6 separate regions of the Homo sapiens genome follow, and regions 2, 3, 4, 5 and 6 are each reported to be linked to region 1. Evidence: microRNA targets listed by miRTarBase, many of them from high-throughput screens and not tested one by one. Region 1 holds a microRNA gene; each other region holds the end of a gene's coding sequence.

Evidence for each region. The annotated mature microRNA hsa-miR-107 reads AGCAGCAUUGUACAGGGCUAUCA and lies in region 1 at 2,519-2,541, opposite strand. An mRNA with a match to its seed (bases 2 to 7 or 8) in the 3' UTR can be bound and repressed. Matches are read on the target gene's strand: a 7mer-m8 pairs with bases 2 to 8, a 7mer-A1 pairs with bases 2 to 7 and ends in A, and an 8mer does both.
Region 2: miRTarBase lists RUNX1T1 as a target of hsa-miR-107. Seed matches in the 3' UTR shown: 7mer-m8 at 2,381-2,387 and 7mer-A1 at 1,584-1,590.
Region 3: the mRNA of NINJ1 is a reported target of hsa-miR-107. The part of its 3' UTR that is shown has no 7-base or 8-base seed match.
Region 4: miRTarBase lists JAK1 as a target of hsa-miR-107. Seed matches in the 3' UTR shown: 7mer-A1 at 1,077-1,083.
Region 5: the mRNA of PAG1 is a reported target of hsa-miR-107. Seed matches in the 3' UTR shown: 7mer-m8 at 815-821 and 7mer-A1 at 965-971.
Region 6: the mRNA of EI24 is a reported target of hsa-miR-107. Seed matches in the 3' UTR shown: 7mer-A1 at 2,786-2,792.

What each region holds. Positions count from the first base shown.
Region 1 is chr10:89,590,238-89,594,327 of GRCh38, forward strand. It overlaps MIR107 (microRNA 107), which reads right to left and starts at 2,590; the gene lies at 2,510-2,590. It overlaps PANK1 (pantothenate kinase 1), which reads right to left. Exons shown (of 7, transcript NM_148977.3): 4 at 3,576-3,752; 5 at 2,960-3,083.
Region 2 is chr8:91,956,629-91,960,718 of GRCh38, forward strand. RUNX1T1 (RUNX1 partner transcriptional co-repressor 1) reads right to left here. Exons shown (of 12, transcript NM_175634.3): 12 at 1-3,889. The coding sequence ends at 3,614. Among named protein-coding and RNA genes, the nearest start is that of RUNX1T1, 140 kb to the right of the region's middle.
Region 3 is chr9:93,121,293-93,125,382 of GRCh38, reverse strand. It overlaps NINJ1 (ninjurin 1), which reads left to right. Exons shown (of 4, transcript NM_004148.4): 3 at 321-484; 4 at 3,153-3,887. The coding sequence ends at 475. Among named protein-coding and RNA genes, the nearest start is that of NINJ1, 11 kb to the left of the region's middle. RefSeq lists a silencer at 305-469.
Region 4 is chr1:64,830,870-64,834,959 of GRCh38, reverse strand. It overlaps JAK1 (Janus kinase 1), which reads left to right. Exons shown (of 25, transcript NM_002227.4): 25 at 303-1,731. The coding sequence ends at 398. RAVER2 (ribonucleoprotein, PTB binding 2) reads right to left here. Exons shown (of 12, transcript NM_001366165.2): 12 at 1,728-4,090. The coding sequence ends at 3,975. Among named protein-coding and RNA genes, the nearest start is that of RAVER2, 88 kb to the right of the region's middle.
Region 5 is chr8:80,973,176-80,977,265 of GRCh38, reverse strand. PAG1 (phosphoprotein membrane anchor with glycosphingolipid microdomains 1) reads left to right here. Exons shown (of 9, transcript NM_018440.4): 9 at 360-4,090. The coding sequence ends at 722. Among named protein-coding and RNA genes, the nearest start is that of ZNF704, 100 kb to the right of the region's middle.
Region 6 is chr11:125,583,236-125,587,325 of GRCh38, reverse strand. It overlaps EI24 (EI24 autophagy associated transmembrane protein), which reads right to left. Exons shown (of 11, transcript NM_004879.5): 11 at 2,642-3,805. The coding sequence ends at 3,643. All of the region lies in intron 1 of STT3A-AS1 (STT3A antisense RNA 1), which reads left to right. Among named protein-coding and RNA genes, the nearest start is that of STT3A-AS1, 7.3 kb to the left of the region's middle.

The DNA.
Region 1 (4,090 bases):
ATCAGTACATTTCACATAAAATGGATTTGTTAATTAATAAAGAGTTCCATAAATCAACAAGAAAAAAAGTCCAACAACCCAATAGAGTAATGAGTAAATAATATTAATAGTTAATCCCAAAATAAGGTATAATTTTTAACCTATTACATTGAAAAAAATCAAAAAGTTTGATAACTCTGTGGAGAAACTTGTACCGTTATAACCCTGCTTGGTGGGAATGTAAATTAGAACCACCTTTATGGAGGGAACTTTATATCTGTTAATATTACAATCAACATATCCGATGACTCAGCAAGTTCCCTTCTAGGAATTTATCCTATTGATATACTCACATGTAGGCAAAATAATATACATGTGTGTACATATATGTGTGTATACCGTATACAAATACACTGAATTTTTAAATAATAGTAAAAGACTGGAAAAACCTAAATATCATTAGGAAATTGAACAAATCAATAACAGCATATCTATATGTTAAAATGCTATATGGCCATTAAAAATGAAGCAATTTAAAATATACTGATATGATCAATTTCAAGATGCGTTATTACGTCAAAAAGCAAAAGGCAGTATTTTTAGAGATGCTTATTAAAATATATAGGGTAGATTGATATAATATCTGGGATTTGTTTTCTAGTATTTTAGCAAAAAAGAGGGAAGAAGGAGAGAGGACCAGAGGGAGGAGGAAGAAGAAAATATAGAGAAAGCATGTGTTGTGAAGCCTTAATGATTGCAGAATCTGCACTGATGGATTAATGGAGGTTCTTTATACTGTTCTCTCTCCTTTACATATGTTTATGAATTTTCTTAATAAAAAGCTGATAAAGCAAGATATAGAATAGTATATGGAGGGTGAATTGTATAGCATATAATTATATTTCAATAAAGCTATTATTTTGTAAAAAGAATGCTATATAGAGTTTGCTACCTTTGGAAAGATAAATGTATCCTACATTACATACAATATAAACAAAGATATATTGTAATACGTACAATAAAAACAAACAAAAAAACCCTAAAAAAAATGGCAGCCTCTACTGAGGTTAACACTGAGAGACAGAAGTGGAAATGGTGACTCACTTCCTTGTGTATCCTTCTAATGTCTTAGAAGTCTGTATTATGTGTTTGTATTATCTATCCAAAAATTTGAATCAGAAAATTTATAACTGATGGGGAAGCATTTCACAGCATCTCAAGAATCACAGCAAAAATGTTTTAGATTTGGTAAACGTGGTGTCCCTCAATGAAATGGCTGCAATCAAAGGTTCTCAAATCAGTGACTCCAGAGAGCAAAGCAAGGACTGAGGGACTTGGTGGCTGCTCTCATGGGAAATGCAACACTGCCAGTCACTGGTGCGGCCACTGGGAGTCTGCACTGACTGGACACCCTCTGGTAGAGCCTTGGCCCCAAGGCGACTGGTGATTCCCTTCACTCATTCAGCCCCACAGAAACATATAAAATAGTTGCTCAAACCAGTGTATAACATGGCTACATTTTCAAATTGGCACTCGCTCTACTCCACCAATCAACAATATTGAAATTGAAATCAAAAGTGAAAAGTAAAGTCAGTTGCTCTCTCCCAAAGGGATTCTGATGCCTGTGAAAAGACCTGCTGACCTGCTGGCTCACTCCAGCAAAAAGCACAAGAAGCCAGCTCTGCGGAAAGTAGGGGAAAGGGCATCTATTGCTCTGTGGGGCAAGGGTTGTTACCAGCTGACCTTTGAGAGCCCATGAGTACAGCCAACTACACACATATTGGTCTTGGGGCTTGTTTCATTACTTGGAAAAATTCCCTTTAAAGGTTAATGTCAAGAAATAAACTCTGTTACATTGAGTCCCATGACTCAAGTGGACTTTGAAAAAACATCTCTGGAATGCTCTTTTCTCTGAGTATCAGCCTCCCATTTAAACTCCGTCTGAACTGAGGGCTTCCAAAAAGGTATATCGCTGATCTGCAGGCCAGTAACATACTCTGTTCAGTGTTATGCAAGGAGAGTATGTTTTTTGTCAACCCAGAACTCAAAGGCAGGGCTAACACCCATGTATCATAAAGACTGCCTCATACACTAACATTCAACTATTCAACTGAGAGGGGGCTCAAGGGGCTTTCTGAGTACCTATAATGTTCTATTTCTTGATCTGGGTGATGGCTATACAGGGTTGCTTGTGTGTGTAAATTAAACTGTAAGCTTATAATTTGAGCCTTCTTCTGTATGTATGTCACCTCTATTAAAAGCTGTATTTATAAAAACTCCATTACAGATCTACTGTGGTTCTTTAATACTCTCCTATGACCTGTTCCATGCCTCAACTCCTCTTTCCTGTCTTTCTAATATACCTCAGTGTGAAGAGTTCTACTTTATACACCTTGTATTTCAGAAAAGGTTCAATTTTTTCCAAACGAATCTTGCAATGCTTCAAAACATGTTAATACAACTTTGTATGTCACCAGCTCCACCCCTTTTTGTGCCTGGGACTCTGGCTGGCCTTGGCTGTAGCAAGCTCTCTGTGCTTTGATAGCCCTGTACAATGCTGCTTGAACTCCATGCCACAAGGCAACACTGTAAAGAAGCTGAAAGCAGAGAGAATATCGAATATTGCAAGTCGAGCATTTTACCTGCAGTTATGTGCAAGGATGCTCAGACCTTTTCCTCACATTTCAGTGGACACATGGCAATAATGATGGTTAGAGAGACTATGACATGGGTTGTAATTGTATCCTGTTTCCACAGGTGAATGGTTTATCATTCATTATCATCCAGTGCCTTCTTAAAAATAAAGCATATATTCCTCCCCCTCCCCCAACACACACCCCTCCTGTTCTGTAAAGTGTGACTAGAGTAAAGGGAAGCTTTCCTAAGGATATGTAGTTGTGTAAGAGTCAACAGGTGTTGCACTGCCAAGATGATGTATATGAATGACACACAGCTTTCACCGGGTTGAGTAAGGCCTTACCTCATTCAACGCGCACATCCGAGCAATGGAGCCAATGTTGTTGGTGATGGTGACCAATGTGGCCCGGGCGAGGTCTTCCTTGCTGATGGAATCTCGCTTTTCTTTACTCATCATGTTGCCAAAGCTATGTTGGAAATATCAGCGAGAGTGTTCAAAATCGTCCTCAGGCAGGGCCCATCCTTCCACCAAAGTATTGTGGAAGGCTCTACGAGTAACTGTTCAAACTCAAGTGATCCAATTTTGCTACTATGGTTTATAAGCAGACAGAATTATAGTATGCATGGCTGACCGCCCTTTTCTTAATAGGGACAAAGTAGCATGTCCATTAATGGGGGGGGAAAATTAATGCCTCTAGATATCTGGACAAGAATGGAACAGGTGAAACTATTGCAGTTTTCTAGAACCTTCTTTCAAAGTTGCCTTATTTTAAGAACAAGCATCAAGAGCTAAACATCTCAGTGCTTCATCAAGGGCAGGAGATCAAGTCTGAGCTCTGATACAACAGGTATCTGCACCAGGCTGGTGGACTGACATTTTAAAACAACTTAGTGAATGGCCAGGGTGGAGAGGCTGCCTTGTGTTTAATCACTACTGCTCCTAGCTACTTAATCTCTACCTTGATGCTACAGCAGATCCTTGAAGGCCAAATCGTTCATAGTCTCCTCCGTAAATGTCCTTCACCAGTTTATCAACATTGGTGCTGTCGCCTTTAGCTGCCATTTCCAGAGCTTCTTCAAAGGTCTCACAACCAGTCAGCAAGCAACATAGGCCTAGGAATGTTCCACCTCCAAGACTGAAGGAATAATAAGGTTTATTTTTAAATTTTACTTTAAGATATGCCCATCCAAGTCCCCAACTACGTCAAGACTATTAATATGGGTGAATAAAAGCAGACGAACAAAGGGGCACTTGAATTAAAGTGCTAGGGTGCAACAGAGCTTTAGGGTAGACTGGATATGAAAAGAGGGCAGAGACTAAAAATAAACATCAAGGAAAATTTGCCCCTAAATTTGAGAACAAAACCAAAGAAAGACTCTCACTGATTTCTGTTGTGAGACCTTCAACTAGCCACTAACCTGAGTGCTTTGTTCAGCCTTCCCACCTATGAAATGGGGCCAAATCATGATCTCT
Region 2 (4,090 bases), not on the chromosome of region 1:
GTTCAGACATAGTAGACTTAAAAGCTCAAGAGTATGCTGACAAAAGCATGATGCCTAGACCCCACCCCCCAGTGTTAGTCTACCATTAACTTGTGGTACATGTCTGAATTAAGTATTGCACAACAACTTTAATTTTTCACAATGTCGCAGAACCCAAAATAATATTTTAAAAAAATTACTTCAAATCTGCATTTCAACAGTCTCCAATTTTTTTTCTGTCCCTTGAGGAATTCGGACAACATGGAGTCGCTTTCTTTCCCTAAGTATTCCAGACGTAGGCATGCTTTGCATAAGTAAACCAGCCTTGAAATTTTTAAATCCCCAAGACATGCACCTACACATAAAAAAAAAAAAAATTTAAGAAAAAAAAAAGACAGGTGGCCCTGTCACACACAGTCTCATGACAGAGAAAAAGAGAAAGAGAAAAGAGTAAGAGACAGAGATAAGAGCTAGAGGACGCCCTATTCCTATCAGCGACCACCATTCAATTCTATCCAATGAAGATAACTTTTTCTTAATGTGTTATACCTACAAATTATATTCTCACATAGCCTGTATATAAGTGACAAGCAAAAAAGGAAAGTAACAAAAGTTTTCTTTTCTTTCTCTTCTTTAGGTTTATGAGGTCTGCATTGTTACCAAGAAGTGATATGGTTTGCAGCTGTATGAGCTTAACTTTTGGTATCCTGGTTCTTTTGTGCCCATTTGGTTTGACTAGACCAGTTTTTGTTAGCTACTGGTGCAATATACATGCTGTCAGAGGTAGAGTGAAACTTTTTGCCACTGAGGAGAATGTAGCAAAACAGGAGGAGAGGAAGAGGAGGAAGAGGGGAAGGAGGAAGAGGAATCAGAGATAGAGCTCAGAGTTAGGGATTTTTTTTTGTATTTGTTTTCACTCAGGGTGCCCTGAATTAAAAAGTAATGAGACGTACTGTACTAATCCTTATTTTACACACTAGTGTTAAGAATAACAGTGCTGTTTCACATACATCACAGCTTCTAGAGATAAAGACGTGTGGGTATGACATACCTCATTTTTGGGATTATTTAACCCTTCGTAGCCTAGAACATATAATAGCTCTGTAAGAAAGGACTGTCCAGTGTCACAAGCAGACTAGAAAGCAGAGTGAGGTCAAAGGATTCTGGGAGCACCATGATAAAATATAACCCATTCAGAGCCTGGTTATGTGCTTTCATTTCACTTTAAGCAGGTGTGCTGGCAGATGGACTTCCAACATGTAGATAGATGTATTTATTTGCTCATCAGAACTTTCTAAACTAAAAAGTCATTTAAAAAAAATAACACCACCCAAACAAAATTAAAACCAACTTGTATATGAAAATACAGGGAAGAAATGCTTTTAAAAATGTTAGATTTAAGAGACTTAAAGCAAACCTTAGGATTGCCTCTATGCAGATACTTAAAAGCCACTTAAAACTGTTTCCAAGGCCTACATTTAACCCTCCCCCCACCCCCCGCCCCAAAGCTAATGGATTGTTTTTGATTTTAAAGAAATGCCTGGTGTATATGTATTTGGAGAAGTGTCTTCCCAGCCTTGTAAACTTTGGTTGTCTACACAGCCTGCAGCACTGCTGACTTTCCTAAAGCACACAACCACATCCTGGGCTACTGTTTTCAAAACTAACAAGTAGTTCTGGTCTGGACCCTGGACAACGAAGGGTTAATGGATTCATACTATACCTTGCTGAACATGTTTAACCTGCTGATCATTTGGAAAGTAGTACTGGTGCTTTTCAAAATTCCGATTTTGGTCCATCAGATCAGTCTTTGGCTGACTTCCCTTTTTGTAAGAATACTGTATAACCTGGCATTCAGCAGTGTTAAAGCTGTCAATCTACACCTCAGCATTTGGAGCTCTAATGATTTTTACTTTTGTAAAATTAGAAATACTTAAACGACCTTACAGCAATATGCATGCACTGTCCTTTTTTTTTAAAGTAGGATATCTTGTTATTTTATTTTTTTAAAAAAGTCCCTAATAATGATTTAAAAAAAAAAAAAAGAAAAATTCCACGACTACTCTATGCTACAGCTAAACTTGATGAAATGGCTCTAGCATATTTAAAAAGAATTTGCTCAAAAAAAAAAAAAAAAAAACAAAAAGCATGCCTAGGGAGTCATTGTGACAGTGCAAAATACATTTATGTACATCCCTCTTACAAAAACACCAATATGTTAGCATTCCGTGAAGCATGCTGGTTTTCAGGAAAAAAAAAAATCCTATAAGAGAGTGAAATAGCAGCTCCGAAAGATAGCTTTTCTTCTTTTCTTTTCTTGAGGACAACCAAAAAGAGTCTTTTTTTCCTTTTTTTTTTTTTAACTACTAGAGAAATATCACTAATACATACAGATATAAAAGCAGCATAGAAAGATACAGGTTTCTCACCAACTAGGAATAAAGAGACTAAATGTGGGCATATGGTTAAACTACAATGCATCTTCACATTTGTCCAACACATTTACAAGAAAAACACCATTGGGAAACCTCACAGGACAGAAGTGTTTTAACACCAAGAGAACTACTAGTTTTTAATTAAAAATCCAAACAGGGTGGGGTTGAAAAATTTTGGAAAGGGGCTGGAGCTGAAGCCACCATTTTTAAAATTATTTTTTTCAATATAAAATGAATGAGCTGGAATAGACCCAATGTCTTACTCTGTGGAACCTTGCAAAAGTGAAGAAACGTTGAAGGGTTATTTAGGGCAGCTGGCTGATGTCAAAACTGCCAGAATGCTAATTAACTGCAGGCTGAGTCTCTTACTTGTGTGTGTGTGTGTGTGTGTGTGTGTGTGTGTGTGTGTGTGTGTGTGTGTGTGTATATGTGCGTGTGTGTGTGTGTATATATATATATATATATATATATATGGAGCCTTTTGTATTATGGCATTTTTTTTTCTTGCTGCTGTATTCATACATCCCATTGCAAATCATCTTTCATTTTTCATTCTGTTGACCTGGATATTATTATTTCTTTTCAGAAACAGGAAAAAAACCGAACATCTGTGTCTCCTTCCAATCTGCTGCACATCTGCGCGTTTTGTAGCGGGTCTTCAAAGTTCAGTTAGCAACCCACGGACGCCATTCATCTTCTTGTTAAAATGTCTACTGCTGTATCCAATGCTCATGCCCTTGAGGGTTTTCCTCTTTTTTTTTTTTCCATTATTGTATATAAAGAACATTGTGACTTTTAATATTAGCATTTTTGCTTTCAACAGCAATTAGCAATCTCTTGGTTTGCTGTTTGGTAAAGCATCGGTTAATGAGGTCATCTAGTTTAAAATCCCAGCTACTTGAAAATAACAGGGAGGAGGTCAAATCTATCATTTCATGTTATATTCTCTGCTCTCTTTTCAGTTCTCTAAAGAAAAGATATCTTTGTTATCCACAATAAGTCATTACGACCCGTTACTGGCCCTCTGTGTTTTACTACCACCTCAAGATACAGTTAGGTTCTCTCTTGCTGAAGTACTGAAATAGGATAATTCATCTAATAAACAAACAAACAAAAAAAACAACTTTGAGCATCTGAGGATGAGGAATTGGTTTCGCGTTGGTTGTGTTGTCTTTCCTCCGACAGTTCTGAGTTCACGTCTAGCGAGGGGTTGTCTCTATGGTGGAAGGGGTTCCCGGGGTGGTTGACCTCGGAGTGGCTGCTGGTGGTGTGTCCATCGGGCTCCCAGCCCCGCTGTTGGGCGTGACAGAGGAGCTGACTGCAGGTGTGTCTCCCTGCTGCTGGGCCTGCAGGGTCTGTCCACAGATGTGATGGTGCTTCTCCCAGTCTTTGTGCTGGCAAAATGAGCCACAGTATCGGGCTGTGTTACAGCCACTGCAGGTTTCACTCGCTTTACGGCCACAATTCCAGCAACTCTAAAGGAGAAGGCAGAAGAAAGCAAGATCCCAAGTTAATACACTGTTAAGACAATAGTCTGACAAATATGTTAGGCATCACTGTAGCCTTATTTTCAAGAACTATACAGTCAGGATGAAAAATCCAGGTGTTCACGTATGGATACAAACACTAAACACAGAAGATGCAGGTTTTGATGGGATGGTTGTCCAAACTGCTCT
Region 3 (4,090 bases), not on the chromosome of region 1:
ACGCAAAGGGCTCAGTGCATTTGCCCAAACCTGGCCTTTGGTTGACGTCCATAGCTTCAATTCGTATAAGGAAAATATGGGGGCTACAGAAGGTGGGGTCATAGACCGTGGGGTTGCCCAAGCCAGGGGCGCTGTTGTCCATGTTTCAGCAAAACAGATGTATTTTTCTCTGGGCGACAAAACTCATCCTAAATGCGACTGAGAGCCCTGTAATGTCCCAGGACAGCTTGACCGCTGGGGTGGGTCCCCTTCCACTGTCCCAGGCTGGGGCGCTGCGTCTGGGCTGCCCTTGGCACCATCCACTCCTCTCTCGCCCACAGTCAAGTACGACCTTAACAACCCGGCCAAGCACGCCAAGCTGGACTTCCTCAACAACCTGGCCACGGGCCTGGTGTTCATCATCGTGGTAGTCAACATCTTCATCACGGCCTTCGGGGTCCAGAAGCCCTTGATGGACATGGCACCCCAGCAGTAGGACACCCAGGTGAGCTGGGAGATGGGGCGCGAGGCCTGCAGTCCTGGGGTTGCTCGCTGTTGGAGGCTCTTGCAGTGTGGTGAGTCCCTGGCCGGCCAGCCTTGGACACCTTCCTAGGCCATGGGCATCCTCGTCCACACCTACAAGGCCAATGCCTGGCCACTGCCTTGAGGCCAGCCCTGCCACTGGTGCTGGCCACCTGGGGTCCTGTGGTCACAGTGTTTAGATGGAATGTGTGTAGGAGCCACCATTTGAACATCCTGGAGAACTCACTTAAACGTAAGATTTCTATACATTCAGAATGTCTGTCCGATAAAAAAAAAAAGATTTCTGGGTCAGGCGCGGTGGCTCATGCCGGTAATCCCAGCACTTTGGGAGGCTGAGGCGGGCAGATCACTTGAGGTCAGGAGTTCGAGACCAGCCTCGCCAACAGGGTGAAACCCCGTCTCTACTAAAAATACAAAAAGTGGCCAGGCATGGTGGCACATCCCTGTAGTCCCAGCTACTCAGGAGGCTGAGGCAGGAGAATCGCTTGAACCCAGGAGGCAGAGGTTGCAGTGAGCTAAGATCGTACTACTGCACTCCAGCCTGAGCGACAGAGTGAGACTCTGTCTCAAAAAACACCCAAAACCCAAAGATTTCCGGCTTCTCTTGATAAGTCAGGGGCTCTGCACCCCTTATCAGCTCCACTTAGCAGGTGAAGCTTCCTCCCAGCCCTCGTCTGAGAAAAAGGGACCTTGGTATGACCGCCTGCCTGACATGCCCACCTCACTGTGCCACTCTGACCAGGACGGTGGGATTCAGGATCTTGTCACGTGGAGCCCTTGTGACTCTTCAAGTCTGCCCCTTGCCGGGCCTCGCAGAATCTGTTAGCTGCCTGCCTTAGGCTGGACCCTGGCTGTGTGCAGGATGCAGACTGAGGCTGTCTCTACAGGACGAGGCACCCAGTGTAGGAAGACTTCTCACACCACATACAGCCTCTCCCTGTGTCCTTGCTCAGAGAGGGTGAGCGTCTGCCCAGTGACACAGCCTGGGAGCAGGATCCACAGGAAGGCCTGGGATGCAGCCATGGCCAGGGCCACATGGTGCACACACTACAGTCCATGCAGCCAGGCCAGGGCCACACACCACAGTCCCCGCGACCTTAGGCCTAGGGGTCACCCCTCCGGTTTGTAGCAGAGGTGGAGGTGAGTTGCTAAGGGAGGGGTGGGCACTCCTGGCAGGTGGCCATCTCTCCACCAGTGGTGGCCCATGGCAGAGTAGACAGGAGCAGTGCTCTTGGGGCAGAGCGCCTGTGTGTCAAGGATATATAAAAATTTCCCCAGGCCAGGCACGGTGGCTCACACCTGTAATCCCAGCACTTTGGGTGGCTGAGGCAAGCGGATCACCTGAGGTCGGGAGCTTGAGACCAGCCTGACCAACATGGAGATACCGTGTCTCTGCTAAAAATACAAAATTAGCCAGGCGTGATGGCGCATGCCTGTAATCCCAGCTACTCAGGAGGGTGAGGCAGGAGAATCGCTTGAACCTGGAAGGTGGAGATTGCAGTGAACTGAGATCACGCCATTGCACTCCAGCCTGGGCAACAGTATGAGACTCCATCTCGGGAAAAAAAAAAAATTCCCCAAGAGGGCATAGTGAGGATGAGGTGGGGCGCTGGGGCCAGCAGCTGGGTTGGGAGCACCCTGCATCCACCTGGCCTCACCCCTCCCCACACGGGGGCCAACGAGTGACCGCTGCTCGTAGTGGCCCATGGCCTCTCAAGCTCCCCTACCACACCCAAGGCCATTCCCCCAGTGGGATCACGCCAGCCCCCAATGTCCCGGCCGTGGAGCCTGAAGTCACCCTCCTGAAAGGACCTGGATCTGGGCGGCCCCATGTGGGGTCCGAGTCACTGTCCAGATGCTGCCTCCAGTTTGTAGTTAAGTTGTCCTCTTCCAGAACACCTAGATGTCAGCTGCTCCCTGGCTTGGGCATGTGGCCAGGCCATTTATTAATCACCTGCTGTGTGTGCTGAATGCAGTCCCTAACTCTCCCAAGCATGAGTTATCTGCCTGCCGGGAAGAGGGTGCTGCGTCTGTGGGCCACGTGGGGACCCAGCAGTGGACCTTAAAGCTGTCCTCAGAGGCTCGGAGGCCAAAGCTGCTGTGTGTCCTGCGTGGAGCAGTCAGAGAGGTCTCAGGCTTCGTGGGTGGCTATGGTCACAGCTGCCCAACCCGAGCCCCCCATGCTGGGCCAGGCCTCTAAGTCCTGGCAGTAACCCAGCCATGCTATATTCATTCCATTTTCAGAGGGGAAACTGAGGCATGGAGTACTTTGACACCTCTCATGTCAGAATCAGGCTCTTCTCCTTCCTGAGTCCGGGTGTGCAAATGGCCCTGACACTCGGGGCTTGTCACAGCCTGGCTCAGAGCCTCTCCTCTCCCTCCTTCCAGGCTCAGAGCCTCTCCTCTCCCTCCTTCCAGGCTCAGAGCCTCTCCTCTCCCCCCTTCCCAGGCTCAGACCCTCTCCTCTTCCTCCTTCCAGGCTCAGACCCTCTCCTCTCCCTCCTTCCAGGCTCAGACCCTCTCCTCTCCCTCCTTCCAGGCTCAGACCCTCTCCTCTCCCTCCTTCCAGGCTCAGAGCCTCTCCTCTCCCTCCTTCCAGGCTCAGAGCCTCTCCTCTGTCTCCTTTCCAGGACCCTGGATGTTGCCTGCCCTGCAACTCAGCTGCCCGACCCCAGGAGTCGCCATACCTGTGAGGTGTCCACCTCCCTGCACATGGCACTACCCAGACTGCCAGAGCCCAGGCTGGCCTCATCTGCACCATGTCCCCGGACCAGCCCTTGCTCTGACTGCGGCCAAGCACCACGCAGGAGGCCACTCTTGTCTCTCAGCAGCTGTTCCCAGGAGGCAGCTCCCTCCTGGCACATGGGGGCTGGCCACAATAGCCCAGAGGGTCAGAACTGGACAGCTGCAGAGACCTGTGCCCAGAGAAGGGTCTCGACCCACTCAAGGACACACAGCAGGTCCGTGGATGGGCTGGATGAGTGACCAGGGCCAGCCTCTGTCTCAGGACATTCCAGAAGGACAAGGAGATGTCTCTCCCTCTCCCAAAGCACCAGCGTCCCTGCCTCCCGTGGGCCCTGTCCGGGTTGCCCTGGTGACCCCAGCCTCTGTCCACTTCCTAACCCAGGGACCCTGCACAGCCAGAACTGCCTTTGGCCCTACGGATGGCCACTGGCTCTGGTCTTAAGTGCCTGGGCTTGGTGGCCATCAAGAGGGAGCCAGTCAGGCCTGTGAGGGCCGTAGACCTTGTATATACCCTGCACCAGCAGTGACCGGGCAGAGCCCAACCCCCTCCACGGGGGTCCCAGCACCCACTTTTCTAATCATGAATGAACAATAAAGCCCACGCTCTTTGTCAGGCTCCACATGCCATCTCCCTGTTCCCGGGGCTGGACCGGCCTTGGCTTCCCTGTCCCCTTTCCAGCTGCCCTGCAGGGGCGTCAGAAGCACACGGTTCTGGCCAGGGCCGCCTTCTCCAGAATCTTGGCTTGGGGAGCTCTTTGGCTCCTGACATCTCCTGGGGTGAGGTTTGGAGGCACAGAGGTGGAAGTCTGAGGTCACTGGCATC
Region 4 (4,090 bases), not on the chromosome of region 1:
AGTCTGGAAAGTTCAAGTCTGAACTGAGATTCTGCTTCACCCTCTAACTGGTTTACAGGAATGACCTGGATTTTATTGCAGCCAGTCAACCCTTGAGCTTCTCAAATGTTAAAATATTATTTATGAACTAGAGTTGTATCCCATTTTCTGTGTTTTAAACTATTCAAATACTCTTGTTTTTCTAGTCTTTAAGGAAAAGTCATTGCATTTCCAAAATTATTTTCTTACTCTTGATATTTCTGTTATTTTTTAAAGTTCCCAGATCTAACATTTTTACTGTTGTTACTTCTTTCTTTTTACAGGTTTATCAACTTATGAGGAAATGCTGGGAATTCCAACCATCCAATCGGACAAGCTTTCAGAACCTTATTGAAGGATTTGAAGCACTTTTAAAATAAGAAGCATGAATAACATTTAAATTCCACAGATTATCAAGTCCTTCTCCTGCAACAAATGCCCAAGTCATTTTTTAAAAATTTCTAATGAAAGAAGTTTGTGTTCTGTCCAAAAAGTCACTGAACTCATACTTCAGTACATATACATGTATAAGGCACACTGTAGTGCTTAATATGTGTAAGGACTTCCTCTTTAAATTTGGTACCAGTAACTTAGTGACACATAATGACAACCAAAATATTTGAAAGCACTTAAGCACTCCTCCTTGTGGAAAGAATATACCACCATTTCATCTGGCTAGTTCACCATCACAACTGCATTACCAAAAGGGGATTTTTGAAAACGAGGAGTTGACCAAAATAATATCTGAAGATGATTGCTTTTCCCTGCTGCCAGCTGATCTGAAATGTTTTGCTGGCACATTAATCATAGATAAAGAAAGATTGATGGACTTAGCCCTCAAATTTCAGTATCTATACAGTACTAGACCATGCATTCTTAAAATATTAGATACCAGGTAGTATATATTGTTTCTGTACAAAAATGACTGTATTCTCTCACCAGTAGGACTTAAACTTTGTTTCTCCAGTGGCTTAGCTCCTGTTCCTTTGGGTGATCACTAGCACCCATTTTTGAGAAAGCTGGTTCTACATGGGGGGATAGCTGTGGAATAGATAATTTGCTGCATGTTAATTCTCAAGAACTAAGCCTGTGCCAGTGCTTTCCTAAGCAGTATACCTTTAATCAGAACTCATTCCCAGAACCTGGATGCTATTACACATGCTTTTAAGAAACGTCAATGTATATCCTTTTATAACTCTACCACTTTGGGGCAAGCTATTCCAGCACTGGTTTTGAATGCTGTATGCAACCAGTCTGAATACCACATACGCTGCACTGTTCTTAGAGGGTTTCCATACTTACCACCGATCTACAAGGGTTGATCCCTGTTTTTACCATCAATCATCACCCTGTGGTGCAACACTTGAAAGACCCGGCTAGAGGCACTATGGACTTCAGGATCCACTAGACAGTTTTCAGTTTGCTTGGAGGTAGCTGGGTAATCAAAAATGTTTAGTCATTGATTCAATGTGAACGATTACGGTCTTTATGACCAAGAGTCTGAAAATCTTTTTGTTATGCTGTTTAGTATTCGTTTGATATTGTTACTTTTCACCTGTTGAGCCCAAATTCAGGATTGGTTCAGTGGCAGCAATGAAGTTGCCATTTAAATTTGTTCATAGCCTACATCACCAAGGTCTCTGTGTCAAACCTGTGGCCACTCTATATGCACTTTGTTTACTCTTTATACAAATAAATATACTAAAGACTTTACATGCATATGCCTTTTAATATTAAGATTTCATTTTCAAAGCATTTCAAACAATTTGCTTACATAGAAAAATAACAGTATAGTTTTGGGGGGAGGAAGGGGTGGGTTACGGTCCTTACTACTAACAAACAAACAAACACCACTTGATTTGCACTTCTTCACTGTTGTGCCCAGTGATTGATAACGGGGCACAGGCCAGTATGGATGGCATGTCCACTGTGCTGTAGTCCAGACACCTTTGTTTGTTTGTTTTAGTTCCTTCAACCTCTTCCTGCTTTGACTGACTGACTTTTTGCAGCTCTGTTGCAAAATTCACCATCTTTCCTTTCTTCTGTTTGTTTGTTTGTTTGTACTATAGTGGAGGTGTGACTAAGCATTGAAGAGGCTGAATGCAACAGGAAAATGGGAAAGAGAAGTGCAGGGCCTGAAAAACCCATTAGTCATCTGCTATATCACTGAATGATGCCTAATTCTTATCAGTTACTTATAGGTAGTATACTTAGAAATTACCTTAAACTTTCTAGCTGTCAGTCATTTTCCAACAGAAGCTAGTATATGCAATAAATTAGACCAAGTGAAATTCTTTACAAAGCATACAACATATGTACCAATTCTAGACTTCATAATTAAAACAGGATATCCACATCATAGTTAAAAATAACAAGTCCCCAAAGTGACGAGATATTTAATGATCTGATTTCAAAAAGCCCCGGATTGAGATCCCAAATTCCCTATCAATTAATTACAGTCTTATAACATAAACAAACTTAGAAATTTCTAGATGGCAAAAGGTTTCTCATGCATTTAATACCAAGGTCTTCAAGAAATGGTGATGTCAAAAGTCATCATAGTCCATAAAGATAAAACTTCTTTCACAAGTAAATTGGGTTAAATAACTGATTTTTCACCCTAACACACTATCAAAAAGAGTGAGAGAGAAAGCAGAGAGTGAGGTATAGCTTATTAGCTCAAAATGGTTATAAATACTGTGACTCCTTAAGACTCCATCAGAAAGTGCAGTATTGACTGCTTTACTATACTATATTGTGGAAATAATAGGGCATTTAGTGATCAAAATAGGCCCCATTCTAGTCATTAGATCATTACTAGTCTACGCTATGAAATGAGCACAGAAACCCATGTTCCTTTCCACTTACAAGTCTGTCTAAAGGCTAAAGGTCTGTCTTTAGGTGAATTGAAAGGAATAGTTGCTATTAGAATTAGTGCTATTAGATCAGGGATCAGCAAACTATATATAAATGGCCAGATACTTGAAATTTTAGGCCATATGGTCTTTGTAGGCCATACAGTCTCTGTTGAAGCTAATCAGTTCTGCCCTTGTAGCGTAAGAGTGCCACAGACAACACGTAAATGAATGAGCATGGCAACGTCCCAATAAAAGTTTATTTATGGACACTGAAATCTGAATTTCATATAAATTTCATGTCATAAGTTTTCTTTTTTCCTCCAACCATTTAAAAATGTAAACATTAGTCTTAGCTTGCAGGCAGCACAAAAGCGGGTGGTAGACCAAATGTGGACCCAGGGTGTAGTTTGCCAAACCCTTTTATTAGATCACCAAAGTTACTTTTCTTAAAATACCTTCTATTTTTCACAGAAGGTATAAATGGTAAACAACATCTTAAAGCATCGGTAGTAGTGGATACCTTGGATATCACTGTCACTCTCTTACCGGGTTTAATTTTGCATGGCTGGTGTGGGCGTAATTGAGTGTGCATGTAGAGCATCTTTATAATATTACCATCAGCACATTTGGTACTTGCACCCTTGTAGTTCTAGGAAAAGTCCTAAAAATCTATAAATGCAATTACTTCTAGGGAAAGTAAATTGAAATGCACATTGGCTTATAAGAAACTCATTCTTCTAAGGCTCAGGAAACAACACTGTTTCCCATTTATTGCTTCAAACTTCTTTTATATATGGTGTCAGAATTATTCCCAGTCCTAAATCAAGGAATATTGGAACATTGTTAGTTTCTCCAATGGATTGTAAGTTAGCACACTGATTAAGATGCATCTGACTCTAGTGGAAAATGTCCTCAATTGATGTCTCTTCTTATTGCTATTTTTTATTTGGCATTTCTGCCTGCTGCACAACACAGTTCCTTCTGGGAAACTATAAACCCGTATTTAAAGGATATGGCTAGTTTGAATGAAGTTAAGGCAGCGATGAACAGCAGAGATACTGCAGAGAACCTTAGGGGGTTATTAGGAGAGAGCTTAACTCAGTATACTCGCTTCTTTTTTAAGTAAGTTTCCATGTAATATGCTCCTGTGCCCTGAGAATGCTGGTCAACACATTCCACTGAACCACCTTCTGGGGCAGAGATGAGATATGATG
Region 5 (4,090 bases), not on the chromosome of region 1:
CCTTTTCAGGCAAAATATCATTCTGATAAAGAAATGAAATAAAACACATGCTGTGGTCAGGTCCCCGGGGCCTTCAGGAGCTTCCCACTCCACCTCTCCTCAAATTCCTCGGCAGACCCAAGAGAACTGGGTTTTCACGGAATTAAGGGAATATGACTGATCTAGTTAACATAGTTGAAGATAGTGTGTGTAATTATTCTCTAGTAATGTGCTCCATAATTAGTACAGATAAGAAAGAACAAATCTTTAAGGAGTACACACACAGAAACCCAGGAGTGCTCAGTATGTAGCTTGTCACTAAAAAGAGGGAGGGGGAAGTCACAGCTGGAAGTTTATTCAACTCTCCCTTTGTCTCCTAGATCTCAGCTATGTACTCATCAGTAAATAAACCTGGACAGTTAGTGAATAAATCGGGGCAGTCGCTTACAGTTCCGGAGTCCACCTACACCTCCATTCAAGGGGACCCACAGAGGTCACCCTCCTCCTGTAATGATCTCTATGCTACTGTTAAAGACTTCGAAAAAACTCCAAACAGCACACTTCCACCAGCAGGGAGGCCCAGCGAGGAGCCAGAGCCTGATTATGAAGCGATACAGACTCTCAACAGAGAGGAAGAAAAGGCCACCCTGGGGACCAATGGCCACCACGGTCTCGTCCCAAAGGAGAACGACTACGAGAGCATAAGTGACTTGCAGCAAGGCAGAGATATTACCAGGCTCTAGCAACCCAGAAGACAACCCTGGGTAGCCTGTGATCAGTGTCTGGAGACGTTTCTTCTGTGGAAGAGAAGAAGTGACACAAACCTATACTTCATATGCTGCTTTAGTCACCTGAAGATGGTTGGAGAGGCCCTGTCGACTGTTCTCCCAGTTGTTCAGTTTCTGAGACAGAGAGGTACGGACTAGGCTGCACCTGAGTGTGCCCCTGCCTGCCAGATGGACAGGTACACCCAAGCACATCTCCCTGCTGCACCCTCACCACCCACAAAAGATCCCAGCTGTCAGTGGTCTCATCTCATTAGTGAGGAAAGCCAAGCTGTATGGAAAAGCTGCACTCACCAAGGACCACAATGCCCCCGGCCTAAAGTACTGCCATTCAGAAAAGCAGGTTTTTCTTCCTCTCTTTCCTTTTCTCTGTCTGCTACTGACTTTAAGGCTTTTTCCCCCTTGAAATGTCCAGATTCCTGTGGTTCATCCCAAGGAAATTTTCACACAAAGCTTGGCCTTTGCCCTCAATATAGGTGTTTTAGGATGGTGACAAACCATGGCTGCTGCTTTCTGCCCAGCTCGCCAGTCCTCCCCAAAGAGTTGCGCATCAGCACCTGGGGATCTGGACCCTGCGGGTGAAGGGATGGGGAGGGACGTCCCTGGAGTCTCTTCTGTCTTTGTTCCTTCTTATTTTGGCATTCGATATCAGCAGCCTCTCCCCAAAGTACTTGAAGTCAGTTTTAGATGCTTTATTTTATTTTTCTAGTCAAAAACGTGTTTCCCCCAGTGTTTGAAAACTCGTCCGAATCTTTTCAGTATTTTCCATGAGTATTGTGGTACTTCTAGACTTGTTTAAGCCCAGAACTCATTCCTTCAAAACAGAGAGCCTTAATCTTTATGTTGGGACACAGACCACATATTTGGACGGCAGCCATGCATCCATCGCTGAAGGGCTGTGGACATGAATGTGTATTTCCCATGGTCTCCGCTGCCCACACCAACAGTGTGGCATCTCATAAGTTAACTGCTACCCTAAGGTAATCTAAGATTAAAATGTAAACATTTATTTTTGTTATGTAAGTTTATAAGATGTTTTATGTTCAATGCCTAATTTCTCAAAAGTGCCAGAAAAAAATGTATATTAGCTATTTTGATTTTATGTACAATGATTTATACTCTCCTTTTGAAAAGATACCATAAAGCACATAAGCTAGATCACTACAAGGAGCTGTTATCTTTTTTCTAATCAAGTGTTTAAAACACTGATGGTTTTTAAAGACTCACCTTTTTAAATGGTACTTGGAGCTCCTGATTCAAATTACCTAGACCCCCTAGAGAAATAAATGGAATATACATAAATAATCATTTTCAGTGGTTTATGGTGGGCAATATTGCAATATTTGAAATGGTAAAAATGGAAAGAAGAACAAAATATGATGAGAGGTGGCTGTGAATTATAAACCTCATAAAAGTGTCATAATTCCATTAAGGTTTAATTATATTTTTTCAGAAAACAGTGATGAATTCTGTAGTCCAGTGCTTGCCAATGCAAATTGCCTATTGGAATCTTCTTCCTATATTTTACAAACATCAGTGGCTGAAATAGCTCAGAGTAAGAGCTCAGCCTGGTTTGAATTTAATCATCTCTTTAGATCTTATAAGGCCAGCATTAGGAAACTTGTTCACTTTTCATTTTCAAAGGAGCCTAGTTGAAGTGCTATTATGAGTGTGGGCTATGGAAAGACAGCTTTTCCTACACTGATAAAGAAAAAAAATGAGGAAATTATTTCATCCCCTTGTGACATCTGTGACTTTTTGGATTTAATAATCTTGCTGTTTTTCCTCTTTATGACAAAGAATATAATTGGGAGGATGAAGTGTCTTAAAAATTGTAGAGACCAGCTCACTGGAATGTTTTTCCATCCCTGTATTCATGGCTTGACTTTGTGACTGCTCTACACTGCATGTCTGACATTGCAGAGTGAGCTATGTTGAGGTAAACTGGTTGGTTGTCATTATTTTGCAATCAGCCTGGTCTCTCCCATGAAGATGTCGTGTGCATAAGCACAATCATCACTGATTAGAAGATCACAGCAGAATACCCTTGGATTAGAGAGAAGTTCGTACCTTGCATTTCTCTGAATTCTAGTCTCTCATAAGCACTGCTTTGCTGGATGATTTTCACTGCTTTGTGTTAATGACTTTGAGCGATCTCTCACATGATGGGGTTCTTTAGTACATGGTAACAGCCATGTCATCTTACACACCTAGCATTGTGAATGCTGTAGTGACATCCTTTATAGGCACCTTACAGCTCAAAACTTTTGTTTCATTTCATGCCTTACTTATCAAAAAGGCAGGAAAGTAGGTATGATCTCTAAAGTAAAAAAAAAAAAAAAAAAAAAACTTTTTATAGAAAGCTCATAAATAATCATGTCATTTTGCAATTTTGTTACCAAAATTTCCCCCAAGAGTTTTCAAATATTAGTTCTGCAATGTGGCTATGAAATATGCACTGAAATATACCTTTTAATTTGAGAACCAGTGGTTAGAATAAGCTGTGATATAAAGTATTTTCAGTGTACTTTTAAAGGAACTATAAGGCCCTCCAGCATAAACGCTAAAAGAATAGATGGTAGCACAGGCCATGAGGGCTGGGGGAGAGAAGCAGAGTGAACCTTAGAAAGATGGCTCAGCTATTTGGAGCACTGGATATTTTACTGAAGTTATTTACTGAGGCACCATCACTGTTTTGACTGTACAGTATAGTTTTTCATAAATTTCATCACATTTACTTTGTTCAGAATCTGGGCTTGAATCTTTGAGTTGGACAAAAGCCTATGGTTTCTTTTAAAAAGTTTCATCTTGAGCTAATGCTACAGTTTAAATAAAATGTATGAAAGGTAGTTATCAAAAACAATTTGTATATTTAAAATTCTATTTTGACATCCATTTTTTACAGCGAATTATAGCAGGTTATGTGAAATTTAAAAATAAATTTTAGGAAATTTTTTTATCTTGTAAGTAAGAATTATAAATCTATCTCAGTTAAAAGTAGGATCTTTGTTTTTATTCAGATATTTTGAAAGTTTAGAAGCATTTTGTATGCTACTTTGGTATTTCTTAAGTATAGTCAGCAGGAAAGGGTAACCTGTTTTATGCAAAATTTTTTTAATTTGTCAAATGTTTTTAGTGTGTCTACTTTCTGAAATAGTCTCAATATCCTGTCTGTATCCTAGGCAGATAACTACACAAGAACAAAACGCTATATAGAAAAGAAAATATTTGAGGAAATCTTAAATTCCATAAGAAAGTAATTCTTGCAAGAATGTTGGCTACATATTTTTTTTTCTGTCCTGAATAAATTACATCATTAGGTCTGT
Region 6 (4,090 bases), not on the chromosome of region 1:
ATCTTGGCTCACTGCAACCTCTGCCTCGCAGGTTCAAGTGATTCTCCTGCCTCAGACTCCTGAGTAGCTGGGACCACAGGCGCGTGCCACCTCGCCCAGCTAATTTTTTGTATTTTTAGTAGAGACGGGGTTTCACCATGTTAGCCAGGATGGCCTCGATCTCCTGACCCCATAATCCGCCCGCCTCGGCCTCCCAAAGTGCTAGAATTACAGGCGTGAGCCACTGCACCCAGCCCAGAATATGTGAATAAAAGGTGAGATGACTGCTAAACTATCTATTCCACCCCACTACTGATGAACAGTAACCTTCACCAGAGCAATCTCAATGATGGAGGTAAACACACATAAAGGAGCAGAATGAACGTACTACTGCTGTAATCAGAAAATAAAGTACTATTTGTGGGTGGAAAATGAGGAGACAGTGAATGGACAACTGTAGTTGCCTTTTCTCTCATAGATGCTATCCTTTTATTAAGTGCAGAGCAGTTAACACATCAGTACATGAATGTGTCATTTACGTTTCTAGCAGACTTAACGTACTCAGATCTAAAGCATCTACTTTCTAATTTTGAGAGTTGCTATAGCAGACAACTCAGCTCTATAGATAGAATAAAAAGGCTTGTGTTTTCTATTACATATACCTGTCCAAGCTGTGATGTCTATCCCTTGAAAAGTGCTTCTGGGAACAATTCCTCAGATCCTACTGGTTTTGTGATTAAAACAAACAAATTTTCATTTTTAGTTTTGTGAGCTCCCTTGTTTTTGGTTACTAATTATTAGTCTGCCTCAAACAGGTATTCTGCACTTGGCAAAAATATAGTCTCTTTTTGACCCATTTCCTAATCACTGCTCTCAGTGACAATACCCTCGTGAAAGGCAGGAAAAATTTACACTGCTTTGTGTATATAACTCATTTGAGATGGTCACATTTCTCTTATCACAGATATGCCTAATCTAGCCTTTATACAAAAGGCTTGGCTGCTCAACTGTGCTAATAAAACTCTGGAGATTCCTCACTTCCAGTCATTTAAACCTTTACACATTTTCTATAGCCAGGCACAGTGCTGGGGATAAAAATCATATACCTTCATCCACTCAACTTCCCTCACCCTTTTTTTCCCCCGCAAAACAGAGTCTCACTCTGTCACCCAGGCTGGTGTGCAGTGGTGCGATCGTGGCTTACTGCAACCTCCACCTCCCAGGTTCAAGCGATTCTCCTGCCTCAGCCTCCCGAGTAGCTGGGAATAGAGGTGTACACCACCATGCCCAGCTAATTTTTGTATTTTTAGTAGAGACAGGGTTTCACCATGTTGGCCAGGCTGGTCTTGGATTCCTGACCTCATCATCCACCTGCCTTGAGCCTCCCAAAGTGCTGGGATTACAGGCCTGAGCCACCACGCCCAGTCTCCTTCACCCTTTTAAACCAAACTGAGATGTTTCTATTTTTTTTTTCAATAGTTTATGAGATGCTTCTAAATGGTACAAATATAAATTTCAGGAAGCAAAGATGTGACTGCTTAAATAACTAAGCCTACTTTTAAAACTTAGTTTTAAGAAACTAAGCTTAAATAAGGCAATCACTTATCACTTACAAGCTGATGAAATACTGAAGTCTTCTGCAAACCACACCCATAGCAATCTGGAAGTAGTCTGCAATACTATTGTTAAATGACCAGAGATGTCATAGGAGAATGTTGGAAGTAAACCTTACTTTAAACCATGTCTTTTACAATTTTTTCTGCCCAAGCTGGAAAGTGTTCACTTCCAAGATGCCTACCATTTAAAAACCCTCCTTCCATCAACCGCATAAACCTTCAAACTTGGTTTACAACTCTCAGCAACAATTTTTTTTTAACCTTTTTTTTTTTTTGAGATGGAGTTTTGCTCTTCTTGCCCAGGCTTGAGTGCAATGGCACGATCTCGGCTCACTGCAACCTCTGCCTCCTGGGTTCAAGCAATTCTCCTGCCTCAGCCTTCTGAGCAGCTGGGATTACAGGTGTGTGCCACCACGCCCGGCTAATTTTTTGTATTTTTAGTAGAGACGAGATTTCACCATGCTGGCCAGGCTGGTCTTGAACTCCCAACCTCAGGTGATCCACCTGCCCCAGCCTCCCAAAGTGCTGGGATTACAGGCATGAGCCACCATGCCCGGCCTAACCTATTTTATAGTTAATAGAGACGGGGTTTTACTATGTTGCCCAGACTGGTCTCGCACTCCTGGACTCAAGTGATCCTCCTGCCTTGGCCCCTGCCAAAGTGCTGGAATCCCAGCCATCAGTTACCATGCCTGGCCCCAGCAACAATTTTTAATTCCATATTTTATCTTGCACATAGTAAAGGTCTCTGTTAACCAGATGTTTAACGGCTTCCCTCGATTAATACTCAATACACCAATATCTAGGAGGGTCTTTCTCCCTTCATGAATATACAGTAGCGATATACATATAGACTTTAGAAAAAGTAATAATCTGACTCTTCTACCAAATATAAATGTGATTATAATCATATAATCCAGGCTTTCTCAGGGAACATTTTTCAGGGCTAATTTCTCAAAACTGTAACTAAATTATCCAAGACAAAGTCTTATATTCCATGAATACATTTCTCGAAATCAAGATTTGCAAATTCAACCATTAGACACTTTGTGGGAAACCAGCTCATGTTTAATTGTGACATTTTAAAATTGTACAGGTATTTTGACATCTGCCCCCCACATTTAGTCTCTCAAAATGACAGGAAAACAACCAATCACAGGTTTAATACATTGACCCCTTCAGTTCCTATATGCAGCACCCAATATTCCTTTGAAATATGAAATAGACCTGGCAGTGGCCAACAGTAAATTTCTGCCCGCTGCCTCCCACCACCAACGGAGTTGAAAAGTTCAGGTTTAGTGTTGTTGTAGTGGCACTTGTCCAGAATTGGTACCTCCCCATAGTTGGGGGACTTTAAATGTACCAATGAAAATAGCTTTTTCCCCTTCAAGGGGAAGAAAGAAAATCACTCCTCAAAACCCAGCAGATCTGGCTGTGAGGTCTTTCCTCCTATCTCATCTCTTCAGGCTTTTTTTTTTTTTTTTTTTTTTTTTTTTTTTTTGCAGTGGAGCAAGAGAGACCAAAACCTAACCTGAGTTACAAGAAACAAGACAGTAATGGCTATAAAGGGAGTGACCAGGAGCAACTGGGACACTCCTTTACCTCCCATATCCAATGTATGTGTTTCACAGAAAAACAACAAAATTAACAAATTCACAAAATACAACAGCTAGAATTACAAAATCCATTCATCCAAGGGTGGTAGAAGGCAGGATGGAAAGGTGGAAGGGTAAATGGCACAGGGAGAAAAACAAAGTGTTCCAATCAGTCCAGGCACAGGGACTGGCAAATGCTAGAAAATAGCTGCAGAAAAACCTGTGGTCCTTTCAGACTCACGGTGATGTTAAAAATCCACACACTGGTGTCAGGGAACATTCTGCCTTACGTGCACCAGAGACAAAAATTTCAATTCCTCAGAGAGAAGGGAATACGCAGAGGGCCCTTGGCAGAGCGGGTCCTGCCTTCCCTGGCAGGCGGGAGGTGAACAGGGAAAAGAGCTGCCACAGCTTCTTCCAATCCCGCCCATCCCCTTTGGATGGCAGGCAACTCAGTGACCTGCAGTAGCCTTCAGTTTGGCAGGCGACGGATGCGGTGAAGGGAACTTCTCTGCAGAAGTAGAGCTGCTCAGGGCCGACTGCAGGTAGACTGTCTTGTGGAAGAGTCTGTTGCTTAAGAAGACCACCAAGGAGAAGAGGCGCAACTGGAAGAGACTAAAAGGCAAGAAACCCAACTTGTTAGCTCCCCAGTTACTCAAAATTATTTCCGTTGTTTGACAACTTGACATTAAATTTAAAACTACACAGGGAAAGACAAGACAAATGAAACTTGATCAAGGAAATACAGATATTAGATACATGGATGGAACAGGCAACTAAAGAATACATTGGAGCCGGGCGTGGTGCCTCATACCTGTAATCCCAGCACTTTGGGAGGCTGAAGCAGGTGGATCACTTGAGAAAAAAATTAGCAGGGCATGGTAGCATGCGCCTGCAATC